Linked DNA regions of Homo sapiens. The protein of the gene in region 1 interacts with the protein of each later gene in a biochemical or structural test. Each region holds a gene or a part of one and is shown in the gene's direction. Other genes may lie near its edges. The genes, in order: NEK1, LRRK2 and YAP1.

Region 1 (3,657 bases):
TGTATACTCCCCAGAAAGTCTTGTTTCCTAGATTGAGGAAGACTAGGAATAGGGAGTAGGGAGTAAACTTCCTGCTGTGTTACTATTGTCATACCCATAAATGTCATTTCCTTGTATTAATTCAGGTTTCATAATCTTACTTTGTTTAGAGTTTAAATGGCAACATAAAAACAAGCACATATGTTAATACAACATGATGTTTTCAGTGAAGTAAATCTTATTACCTGGATCTGTTTCTCCTTCCATTCTCATTTATGTTGGCATTTTTATGAGGGCTCTTATGTTGAGTAATTGATATTTGAACTTTGAGAAGATTGTACCCAAACCTGCAGGAATTACAAAAGCATTTCTTTTAGAAGTGTAAGATTAACAAAATCTTACACTTGAATCTTTAAAAGACAGTTTTTCAGGATCATTTCATGAAACATTGATAATGCAATGAAAGCGGGTTATTTAGGACTATGTGACATGACTATGTGTACATCTGAGACCAGAGATTTTTTTCTCTAGTCACTGCTGTATCCCCAGCATGTAGCATCATAATGCCTTGCTCAACAGATAATTCAGGAATGAAAAAAACTACTTGTGGATAGAGTGGATAAATAGTGATCTGGTAGGTACCATTTTATTTCTTCATACAAATATAAAATCCCTAATGTATTTAATAAAATCCTTTTTTATAGTTGGTGGCTAAAGGAGTTAAGAGTTCTGATGTTTCTCCACCTTTGGGACAGCATGAAACAGGTGGCTCTCCATCAAAGCAACAGATGAGATCTGTTATTTCTGTAACTTCAGCTTTGAAAGAAGTTGGCGTGGTAAGTTTCCTAAGATTCAGAACTCCTCAAAGTCAAAAGATTATTTAAAAGGAAATTAAATTTAATGAAATCACATTAATCCCTAATGTCCCTTTCAGGTTTTTCTAAGGAAAAAAATTACTTTTTAAGGGATTTTAGTTTACTCAGAATACTGGAGCCTCATTGTTTATAAGTTTTATATCTAGGACCACGTGGTAGATGAAAATATATCACAATAACTCTTATATTACTTTAAAAGAATATTGAAAAAATAAAATATACAGAGAAATGTACTGAAAATAATACTATAAACATTTTTCTACCCAACCCTCATGATTAACAAATGTTCACTTTAAAAAGAATAATGTCTCTTTGGTGCTAAAGTAGCTCTAGGTATTAGGTCCAACACATATTTACATTTATTCAAATTTTGTGACATGGCAAATGTTAGAGGACTCAGTAGAACTAGTTAATTCATCAGTTATTCCTTTTACCTTCTACTTCTGAATCTCTGTCATGCCCTACAGATAGTAAAACAAAGAAACATAGACAAATAAAAAGCTTAAACTTAGAAGTATATTTCAGGTATCTGTCTGAAGTGTGAAGACTGTTCAGGGGTTAAGAGAAGTGGGCTCATAGTGTGGAGCTGCGGCCTAGAATTCAACAGACAGGAGGAGAAAAGTCTACTGAATCAGATAACATAATAACTTCATTTTCCCCTTTCCTGGTAATGGATGTCTGTGCTTTTTATTTGTTTAGTTTCAGTAAATATTTGCAGACAAAATTGGTACACTAGCTGTTTTTTTTTATAGCCTTTGGGTTGATTTTGAAAATAAAACTCAGTAGGAAAATATAAGTTTCTTGATCATTCTCAAGAACTTCATGTAAGAAACTATTGTTCTTCAAGTAGGCTTAGTCACTTTTTCTTTCTGATAACGACTTTGCGTGTGCCACGTTGTTACTCCAACTTTAGATACCACTGTGTGGTCCCTCCTTGGTACCCAGTCTCACATCTCAATAGCTGTTCATCTCTCTGGTTGTAGGACTGCTAATTCCTGACTACTTTACTGGGTAAAATGTTCTTTGTCTCATTGCTTCATATATTACTTTGAAACTGACCACCAAATTTTTAATTTTTTTTAAGTATTACAAAATTCGAGGTAATCCATATAACTGAACGGTTTTCTTTCTGTGTTGTGTTGGTAAATGTCACTTACTTAAAACTTAGAAAATTGTTCTTTGAATCTTCTACATGCCTTTGCTTTCATAGCTTTCGTAACTGCTAATTTCTTCTTTTCGTATGTTTTTTAATTTTAGATAGTCTGGATTGCTTTGACAATGCTAATTAGGAGATAACATTTATGTCATTTGTAGTACAAATGACTCAGAACTAATTTTTGTTACACTCTTTGTTTAGGGAGGAAAGCCACTTCTCAATTACATTTAGTACTATGGCTTAACAAGGATATATATACATGAAACATAAAGACAGTTTTAGAATAACACAGCCTATTTTGAATTACTTCATCTATCAAAACTTTTTCTAGTTATAATTAAGAGAGTATATGAATTTTCCTCTAATTTCTACTTTTTCCTCTAATTTCTACTTTTTCCTCTAATTTTCTGACTTAAATTACCAAAAAATCAGGTACCAAAGAGGAAGAGGATATAGTTAATTATGTGAGCAGTAATCTAAAAATATGACAAATAATTGAGAATTGGCCCCTGTCTATGTTGTCTAATTAATAATATTTAAAGGTTAGTCATTGCTGATAATGAAGGAAGCTTTGTTAACATTTTATAGGAATAAAAAATTTACAAGGAACAAATTAATGAAAACCAAAAAGTAACGAGGATGTAATATTTTTAAAGGTAGATTTAAAAAAATAAAATTATCTCTTCCTCTGTATCTATCTGCATTTAAAGGACAGTAGTTTAACTGATACCCGGGAAACTTCAGAAGAGATGCAAAAGACCAACAATGCTATTTCAGTAAGTAAAATTTTCAAAGTTTATCAATCATTTTACTTAATGATATACATATTAAAATATATAATGTCGTGACTTTCAGAGTAAGCGAGAAATACTTCGTAGATTAAATGAAAATCTTAAAGCTCAAGAAGATGAAAAAGGAAAGCAGAATCTCTCTGATACTTTTGAGATAAATGTTCATGAAGATGCCAAAGAGCATGAAAAAGAAAAATCAGTTTCATCTGATCGCAAGAAGTGGGAGGCAGGAGGTCAACTTGTGATTCCTCTGGATGAGTTAACACTAGATACATCCTTCTCTACAACTGAAAGTATGTATAGTAGTATATTAATATCCTATTTAGGTCTAGTACATATGTAAACTTATAGACTAACCACTCTGAAAAAAATGAACACTTAGAAGAATTGAGAGAAGCTGAAAGAATTCTATATATTTTCCTTTTGGGCGAATAGAAGTGCCTCCCTCTCACAGTGAAATGTGAAGAGCAGAGAAAACTAATCAAACTAATCAGCCTTAATAGCAAGGATTTTTATTACAAAAGTGTATAGTGTGAGAGAGGGAACTAATGATACATATTTAAATTGCATTACTTTAACTCTGTATACCATGTTAAATTAATCTGTTACTATGAATAATTCTTGATGAGAACCAGGGTAGTGTCTCAGAAACATCTCTTAGGCATTTAGCGAGAGTATTGAGAAAATCTGACTTAATGATTTATATATTCGGTGATAATTACTGAGAATCTATATTTCTTACATTGTTCTAGGAATTGGAGATATAGGAACAAAACAGAAACATATGTGCTCTTGTGGAGCTTACATTCTAGAAGGGCAAGTCTGACCATCAACAAATCTGATTTTAAGTAATTTT
Region 2 (3,657 bases), on another chromosome or scaffold:
ACAACATGGGAGAAGTCTTAAACAACAGTTTTTATTATTTATAGGCCCATTGCACACTGTCATTAAATACCAATATGTTCAATCAACCATGCATTCATTGATTCAATAAATACTGTACATACAAAATAGAAATACAGAAATGGGTAAGACAAGTCCTTGGGCCTAAGGACTTTATAACCTGGTATTTCACTCAACTACATGATAGCATAAATAATGTTTGCTTCTGTTTAAGTATTCCTTAAACATTATAGATCTCCCAAAGAAAATTAAATACAAACCTCTTTTTAAAGTGAATTTGACAAAGCAAAATAAATTGGAATATATAGATAAATATGCTAAAATTTGTCATATGTACTTTGCGTACTTTACATGTGTTATTTCATTCTCAGGGCAATCTAAGACAGTCACTTTTATTATCTCATTTTATAGAGAAGAAAGCTGTGCAGTAAAGAAATCAAATACCTTTCCCAAGGTTACAGAGCTAGTAGTAGAGCCTGGATTTGAATCTGGGTTCTGACTGATTTTTAACTGCCATGACAAGGATCAAAGCTCAAAGTGTGATCTCTGTGTTAGAAACATCGGGGTTGCTCTTTAAAAAAGCCGATTCTCAGGCCTCAACCCAGACCTACTGACCCAGACACTGCAAGTAGAATCCATCAAAATGCAGTAGTTACTTTGAGAATCATGAAACTCTGCTACACAGTCTGTCTTCCTATTCATGGAAGTCCTCTCCTAGTATATAAATGTGAAGTAATATTTCTATTTCAAACCTGTATTGATAACTGTCTGGAAGATAATTTTCCTGGGAATATATTATTGATGAGACTGCAAAACAGATGTGAGGTATTGGATTGATCTTTCCATTGTAGCTAGGGAAATACTGATGTTCATTGTTTCAGTGAAGTTCAATGATTTCCTATCCGAATTAACTCCCTTAATTTAACAATTTTTTTTTTTTTTTTGAGAGTGAATGCCCCTCTGGGCTTCTAGGCCACATGGTTGCTAGAGAAATTAGGTACTGTGTTGCACTTGAAAACACTAAAATCTTTCTGACTACTTTCACTGAGCAAAGAGACATAAAATGCTTTAAATTTGCAACATTTCAGAAAATAAATTTTAGTGATTATTTATGACTCGAATCTTTCAGATTTTGACAGTGAAAGTGGAAGGTTGTCCAAAACACCCTAAGGGCATTATTTCGCGTAGAGATGTGGAAAAATTTCTTTCAAAAAAAAGGAAATTTCCAAAGAACTACATGTCACAGTATTTTAAGCTCCTAGAAAAATTCCAGATTGCTTTGCCAATAGGAGAAGAATATTTGCTGGTTCCAAGCAGGTAAAGAAAACCTTAAAAAATTAATTGCTACATGGAAATTCACTATCTATTCTTTTAATTGTCAAACTAACTGTAGTCTATAATAGATGTATTAAATAAATAAATATATTTTGCTTCTAGTGTAAACCTCCTACTGACATGTATCATTTATTTTGGAATAAAACATTGCATCTGACACTTTAACAATATAGTAAATCACTTACTTTATGTGTATAGTTACTAGTTGGCTTATCACTGTTGAAATTATTTAAGAAAGGTAAATAGTGGAGATTAATGTGTGTGTGTGTCTGTGTTTGTGTATGTGTGTGTTCTTAAACAACACTGAGAGAGTTTATTAAGCAAGTTCTGAGAAGATAGTGAGTTTTCAACAGAATTTTAAAAGCATTTATGGCATCACAATGGATGCCTATGTTTTAGCCTATACTATGGAAATTTTTCCTACTGCTCTAAGCAACTGGGAAATTTATAAAGTAATATGATGTTGAAATGTGCAAATTACATTGATTGATGGATGCAGCCAATTTTAAAAATAAATATACACTTTTTTTCTAGGACATGTATTTTTCAGGATTTATATAAGATTACATTTGTCTATGCATAACTAATTGTAATAATTTATGTATTAGTGCACAGGGATTACCGAAAATATTTCATGCATCTACATCTGAGCATGCATTTGAATTGGTTATTGACCACTGAATTTTTGGTGTAGGAAAAATATGTAGTGAAACAATGTTACAAAAAGATTACAATTGTTTGGAATGATTACCTTCATTGACTTTAAGCAGTAAAATCATTTGCTCAACAAGGTTGGGTGTTTTGTGAGGCTGTATAACCATAGTGTCCTTTTGCCTTTAGTTTGTCTGACCACAGGCCTGTGATAGAGCTTCCCCATTGTGAGAACTCTGAAATTATCATCCGACTATATGAAATGCCTTATTTTCCAATGGGATTTTGGTCAAGATTAATCAATCGATTACTTGAGATTTCACCTTACATGCTTTCAGGGAGAGGTAAGTATCTAATGAAGACTTATTAGATTTTTAGAGACTATTAATTTAGACTTATTAATTTTTAGAGAAATTAGGGAGATGGCATATGAAAAGTAATATGCCATTTTCTCAGAGTTTACTTGTTTGGAAGGCAGCTGAAGAATTAGAAAATAAGCTCATAAAACCTTGGAGTAGGCAATCTAAAGACACACAAGCACATATAACCTCATCTAATTTGTCAGGAAGAAAATTCCTTAGGTGCTCACTCAGATCTTGACTGTGATTACATTGTAGGGACTGTAATTATCTCTTTTCTGTTGCACAGCCACTAAGACATTTACAAAAAAAGAGCAAATCCGGTGTTTATAATGCTAACTCTTTCTTCTAAAATAAATAGAGACATTTTGGTACTCCAAAGGGAAAATATCATTTTGGGGATTAAAATTAGCTTTACACAGGTGTTACTGGTTTCCAAAATAAACCTTACCTTGATTGGAATTAATCAACATATAGGTAGTTACATTGCATTAAAAAGTTCAGAAAGTTTTGCGTTTAGCATGATCAAAAACTTCTTTTTAAAAATTATGAGGATTTATTTATGATTTTCTTTCTTCATCTGTCGAGCATATTAAACTGCTTAACAGCATCAACCTGAAATGGATCTTAATGTGCAGGGGATTTAACTCTTTTTATTGTAAAGTTGTGGATAAAATATTTAATAGATATGGATGAGGACTCATATCAGTAACAACCCAATACTTTATTTCAAAATGAATAGATCTGTATTACAATCACTTGTGTTGTGTGCAGTAGATTTTTTCCCTTTAACTTAGGAAGCAGTTAATAATTAATGGCTCCATTTTTTAGAACGAGCACTTCGCCCAAACAGAATGTATTGGCGACAAGGCATTTACTTAAATTGGTCTCCTGAAGCTTATTGTCTGGTAGGATCTGAAGTCTTAGACAATCATCCAGAGAGTTTCTTAAAAATTACAGTTCCTTCTTGTAGAAAAGGTAAGGAAATCAATTTGAATGTTTTCAATTGCAACACTAAAGAAATTTAAACTTAAAAAAAAAAAAAACTTTACCTTAAAGCTTTGCGACAGTATGAGGTTTAGACAAGGTGTTGAGCTCTGTTTTGAATCATGTAGGCTGTATTCTTTTGGGCCAAGTTGTGGACCACATTGATTCTCTCATGGAAGAATGGTTTCCTGGGTTGCTGGAGATTGATATTTGTGGTGAAGGAGAAACTCTGTTGAAGAAATGGGCATTATATAGTTTTAATGATGGTGAAGAACATCAAAAAATCTTACTTGATGACTTGATGAAG
Region 3 (3,657 bases), on another chromosome or scaffold:
AGAAGGAGTAAGACAGTATGTGCCAACATACGATGTCAGGAACTTGTTGGGGCTCAGAAAATGATACTCCAAAATATGGTTCTTTGACAAACTAAGGAAGCAGCCTCAAGTTCTATGCCAAAGCACAGGATGAGGCTGTTCCTTGAAGTTCCTTTATCTGCCTAGAAACCAGACCCACCAAAAGGAATACAATTGCCTTTGATCCCCTCCTCAAAATTTCATTAACCAGAGAAGCCTGAAACTTGTATGACAGAGGAAAAGACTAAAAATTAAATATCACACCTAGAGAGCTCAGAGGAACTTTGCCCAGACTATTGTCTGTTCTCAGATCCCATTCAGTTTCCAAAGAGAATTATTTACTAACCATTGTCTGTGTACTGGGCCCATTCATTCTTCCTAAAAATCATTTACTGCCCTTCAAAATGGCGTCATTTCCCTCATGTCCCCTTCCCCTGTGAAGAAGGGTATTATATAGTATCTGGAACTCACTTGGTTATTGGGTAATAATTGTCTTGCAATTTCCCCCATGCTTATGCACCTTAAATAAATTTGTTTGCCATTTTCTCCTGTTAATTTGTCTATTATCAGTTCATTTTCAGCGAACCTTTAGAGGGTAGAGGGGAAGTTTTCCTTTTGGCCCCTATAAAGTGATCTTGAAAGAAATGTTTCTTTATCTGACATAAAAAAGGATGGAGAAAGGAAGCATTATTGTACCTCTGACTTTCTAACAAATTACCATAAAGGAAGAATATTTTTCGTCTACTATTGTTAGAACACCTTAGAACCATCAAAAATATAATTACATGGCTAATAGAAAAAAAAAGAGCAGTTTTAAAATATGTTTTATGTAACCTATTTTCATTGTTTTTCATTTTGTTGTTGCCGAGTAGTAGTTGTTCTAAGTAAATACAGGTCTCAATTTCACTATGAATAAAAACTGTCAAAATCAAGAAACTAAAAAAAAAGTTCTTTAATTACTAATGTCAAAACCATACTGTTTTTAAGATAATTTGTAAAGTCTAGAAATGGGGCCATTCGCCATTTTGTTTTATGCCATAGATCATCCTGGGGTTTTTTGGTGGGCAAATGCTGCTATTTGTAAAACTCTTCCTTCCAAAGATTTTCCTAAATCTTTATTCTCAAACTTACTCTGGGTGATGGGTCCTGGACAGAATAGCTTCACTTCCTTTAAAGGTAACTTCTTTGTTTCATCTTTACTGCCTACTGTGTCGTCTTTTCTTATGTTGAAGTTGACAGACCTGCTCTATTCTCATACTAATAGACTATTTTTAGATTTTTTTAAAGTAATCACAATAAATTCAGTATATCTTAAGTCTTTTGGCTTCCTGTGAACTTCTTCCCTTGACAGTTTATCTTAGCACTGAAACATCAAATATATTGTATCTGCTTTATCTAATACTCAGAAACAAAGAACCTACGTGACCAATATCAAATTTTATTTTTTAGTTCTGACTCCTAAAGTCTTGCTGTCCTATCCTCAATGCTGTTAAAAACTTCTGAGGTTCCAGTTTTGTTATGTGGTGACTCCATTGGCTCCTGTCTTCGTCAGTCTGCTTCTTCTTGGGTAGCTTGGGAATTCTGTGCTATGGTGATATGTCTGGATACAATTTGTAAGTCAGCCTACACAGCCAGACCATGTGGCTTAAAGTAATTTTTATCCGTCTTATTTTTTACTCTTAGGCAATGCGGAATATCAATCCCAGCACAGCAAATTCTCCAAAATGTCAGGTAGGCTCTTATCTGATGTTTTAGCACTGGAAAAAAAAAAAAAAAGATATTAAATTAGGAAAGAGAAACTTACATTCCAGGGTCCTGTCCTTATTGGACATTAGCCCAGAGAATAACTTTGAGCCATCTTTCTACCAAGATACTCAGGTTAACATTGCCCTTCCAAGAAAGTCTACACAGTCTGCTCCCTCCCTGCTCCTCCTAGGGAGTTTCTGTTTATTTTGATTCCATGGAGGTCTTTTTTATTCTATATTTAAATGTATTGTGTCTCAGTTGTACATCCTATCAGCTAGGTATGCCTAATTTTTATTTGAATAGCTTAAAATAGTATGTGTAATGATTTAAAGGAATTAATAAATTGAACAGTAACAAAAGCAGTATTTACTTGGATAGGCTACTTTAGGAAATTTTAGAGTCATGATACTATGAGGAAGAGAAAAATTCTTTCTAGTGGACATTCCAAAGGAAAAATATCAAAATTATCAGGAGAGTATCTGCCTGGATAGTGTTTCAGGTTTTCTTGTTGGCTTTTATCAGCATTCTCTGATGAACCCCAGGGAGCCCTGGTTGTGAAGGCATCTTATTTAGAAGGAAAGATTGTGGCCAATTTTTCTTCTAACACAGGCACTTGTCTGACTCGTGGGAAGAATCTCGTTCTTAAAACCAAAAAGATTTTAGGTGTTTGAGGTCCACAAGATTAGAAGAAATTCGGAGCCAGAGGATCATTCTACTTCTCTTGGGGCAGAAGCAACCATATAATGCCTCACCTTCTATGTAACTTACTCTGCACTATGCTAAATAAGTACATTGTTTTAGAATCTGCTGTAGAAGTAGGAGTTGGCAAAATTCTACTCATTTTGGATACTGTTAAGTTGTCCGTTGGAGCACCATGATGATAAAAGTCAGATACAGTCTTCATAGAAACCAGTTAATTTTGTGAGAGGGAAAATCTCTATTCTTCTTTATCTATCTCATAAATGCCACCATTAATCAAAAGACCAAGCAAGGGATAACTCAATAATAAGCCATCTTCACCAAAGTTGAGCATAGACATTCTTATGATGAGGGGGCACTAATATACCATTTGACTGTGAAGTGCAGGATAGCATTGGGTCTTTATAACGTGAAGCCATTTTTTTCTTTGCCATTTCTCTGAAGTGTTTGTTTTGTTTTGTCTTTTTGTTTTTGTTTTTTGTTTTTGTTTTTGAGATGGAGTTTCGCTCTGTTGCCGAGGCTGGAGTGCAGTGGTGTGATCTCGGCTCACTGCAAGCTCCGCCTTCCGGGTTCACACCATTCTCCTGCCTCAGCCTCCCAAGTAGCTGGGACTACAGGCGCCCGCCACCATGCCCAGCTAATTCTTTTTGAATTTTTTAGTAGAGACGGGGTTTCACAGTGTTAGCCAGGATGGTCTCGATCTCCTGACCTCGTGATCCGCCCACCTCAGCCTCCCAAATTGCTGGGATTACAGGCGTGAGCCACCACGTCTGGCCTGAAGTGTTTCTGAAAGAAGAATTTTATTCATGATAAATGAAATAGAAACTAATATAGGAGCAGAAATTAACTCAAAGGAGATTTGGATTCAGGTAAAAAGTCCTCCATGCCAAAAAAATGTTGAAATTGTTTCCTTTTTTCCCAAGGTCTTATACCCTGAATCTGATAAATAAGTCAAATTCTTCTTGATCTTTGTTTCATACTTGAATAGAAAAGTAAATCTTTACTGTTATTAAAATTATCAGGAATTCTTAGATTTTTTAAAATAGTAAAGTTTTAGAAAAGGTGAGGCTTATTAGTAGTAAAGCTTCTAAGATACGAAGATTAGAGGTAATTACTCAGATTTGCCCAGACCAGAGCAAAAAACTTGAAAGAGGTTTTTAAAAATCTTCTTTGCATATGCTGGAGATTAAAATA

What was found.
Region 2: the proteins of NEK1 (region 1) and LRRK2 interact on a protein array, tested with the Homo sapiens proteins (2 studies listed by BioGRID and IntAct, with this or other methods).
Region 3: of the proteins of NEK1 (region 1) and YAP1, one has a biochemical effect on the other in vitro, tested with the Homo sapiens proteins (one study listed by BioGRID).

The regions. Positions count from the first base shown.
Region 1 is NC_000004.12:169,476,561-169,480,217, reverse strand, and holds part of NEK1 (serine/threonine-protein kinase Nek1), read left to right. Parts: intron 1-683; coding exon 684-815; intron 816-1,837; coding exon of another isoform or gene 1,838-1,846; exon of another isoform or gene 1,847-2,694; intron 2,695-2,720; coding exon 2,721-2,786; intron 2,787-2,865; coding exon 2,866-3,094; intron 3,095-3,657. UniProt on the Homo sapiens protein: Phosphorylates serines and threonines, but also appears to possess tyrosine kinase activity. Involved in DNA damage checkpoint control and for proper DNA damage repair.
Region 2 is NC_000012.12:40,318,841-40,322,497, forward strand, and holds part of LRRK2 (leucine-rich repeat serine/threonine-protein kinase 2), read left to right. Parts: exon of another isoform or gene 1-1,135; intron 1,136-1,147; coding exon 1,148-1,335; intron 1,336-2,193; coding exon 2,194-2,348; intron 2,349-3,194; coding exon 3,195-3,341; intron 3,342-3,478; coding exon 3,479-3,657. UniProt on the Homo sapiens protein: Serine/threonine-protein kinase which phosphorylates a broad range of proteins involved in multiple processes such as neuronal plasticity, innate immunity, autophagy, and vesicle trafficking.
Region 3 is NC_000011.10:102,207,816-102,211,472, forward strand, and holds part of YAP1 (transcriptional coactivator YAP1), read left to right. Parts: intron 1-1,701; coding exon 1,702-1,749; intron 1,750-3,657. UniProt on the Homo sapiens protein: Transcriptional regulator with dual roles as a coactivator and corepressor. Critical downstream regulatory target in the Hippo signaling pathway, crucial for organ size control and tumor suppression by restricting proliferation and promoting apoptosis.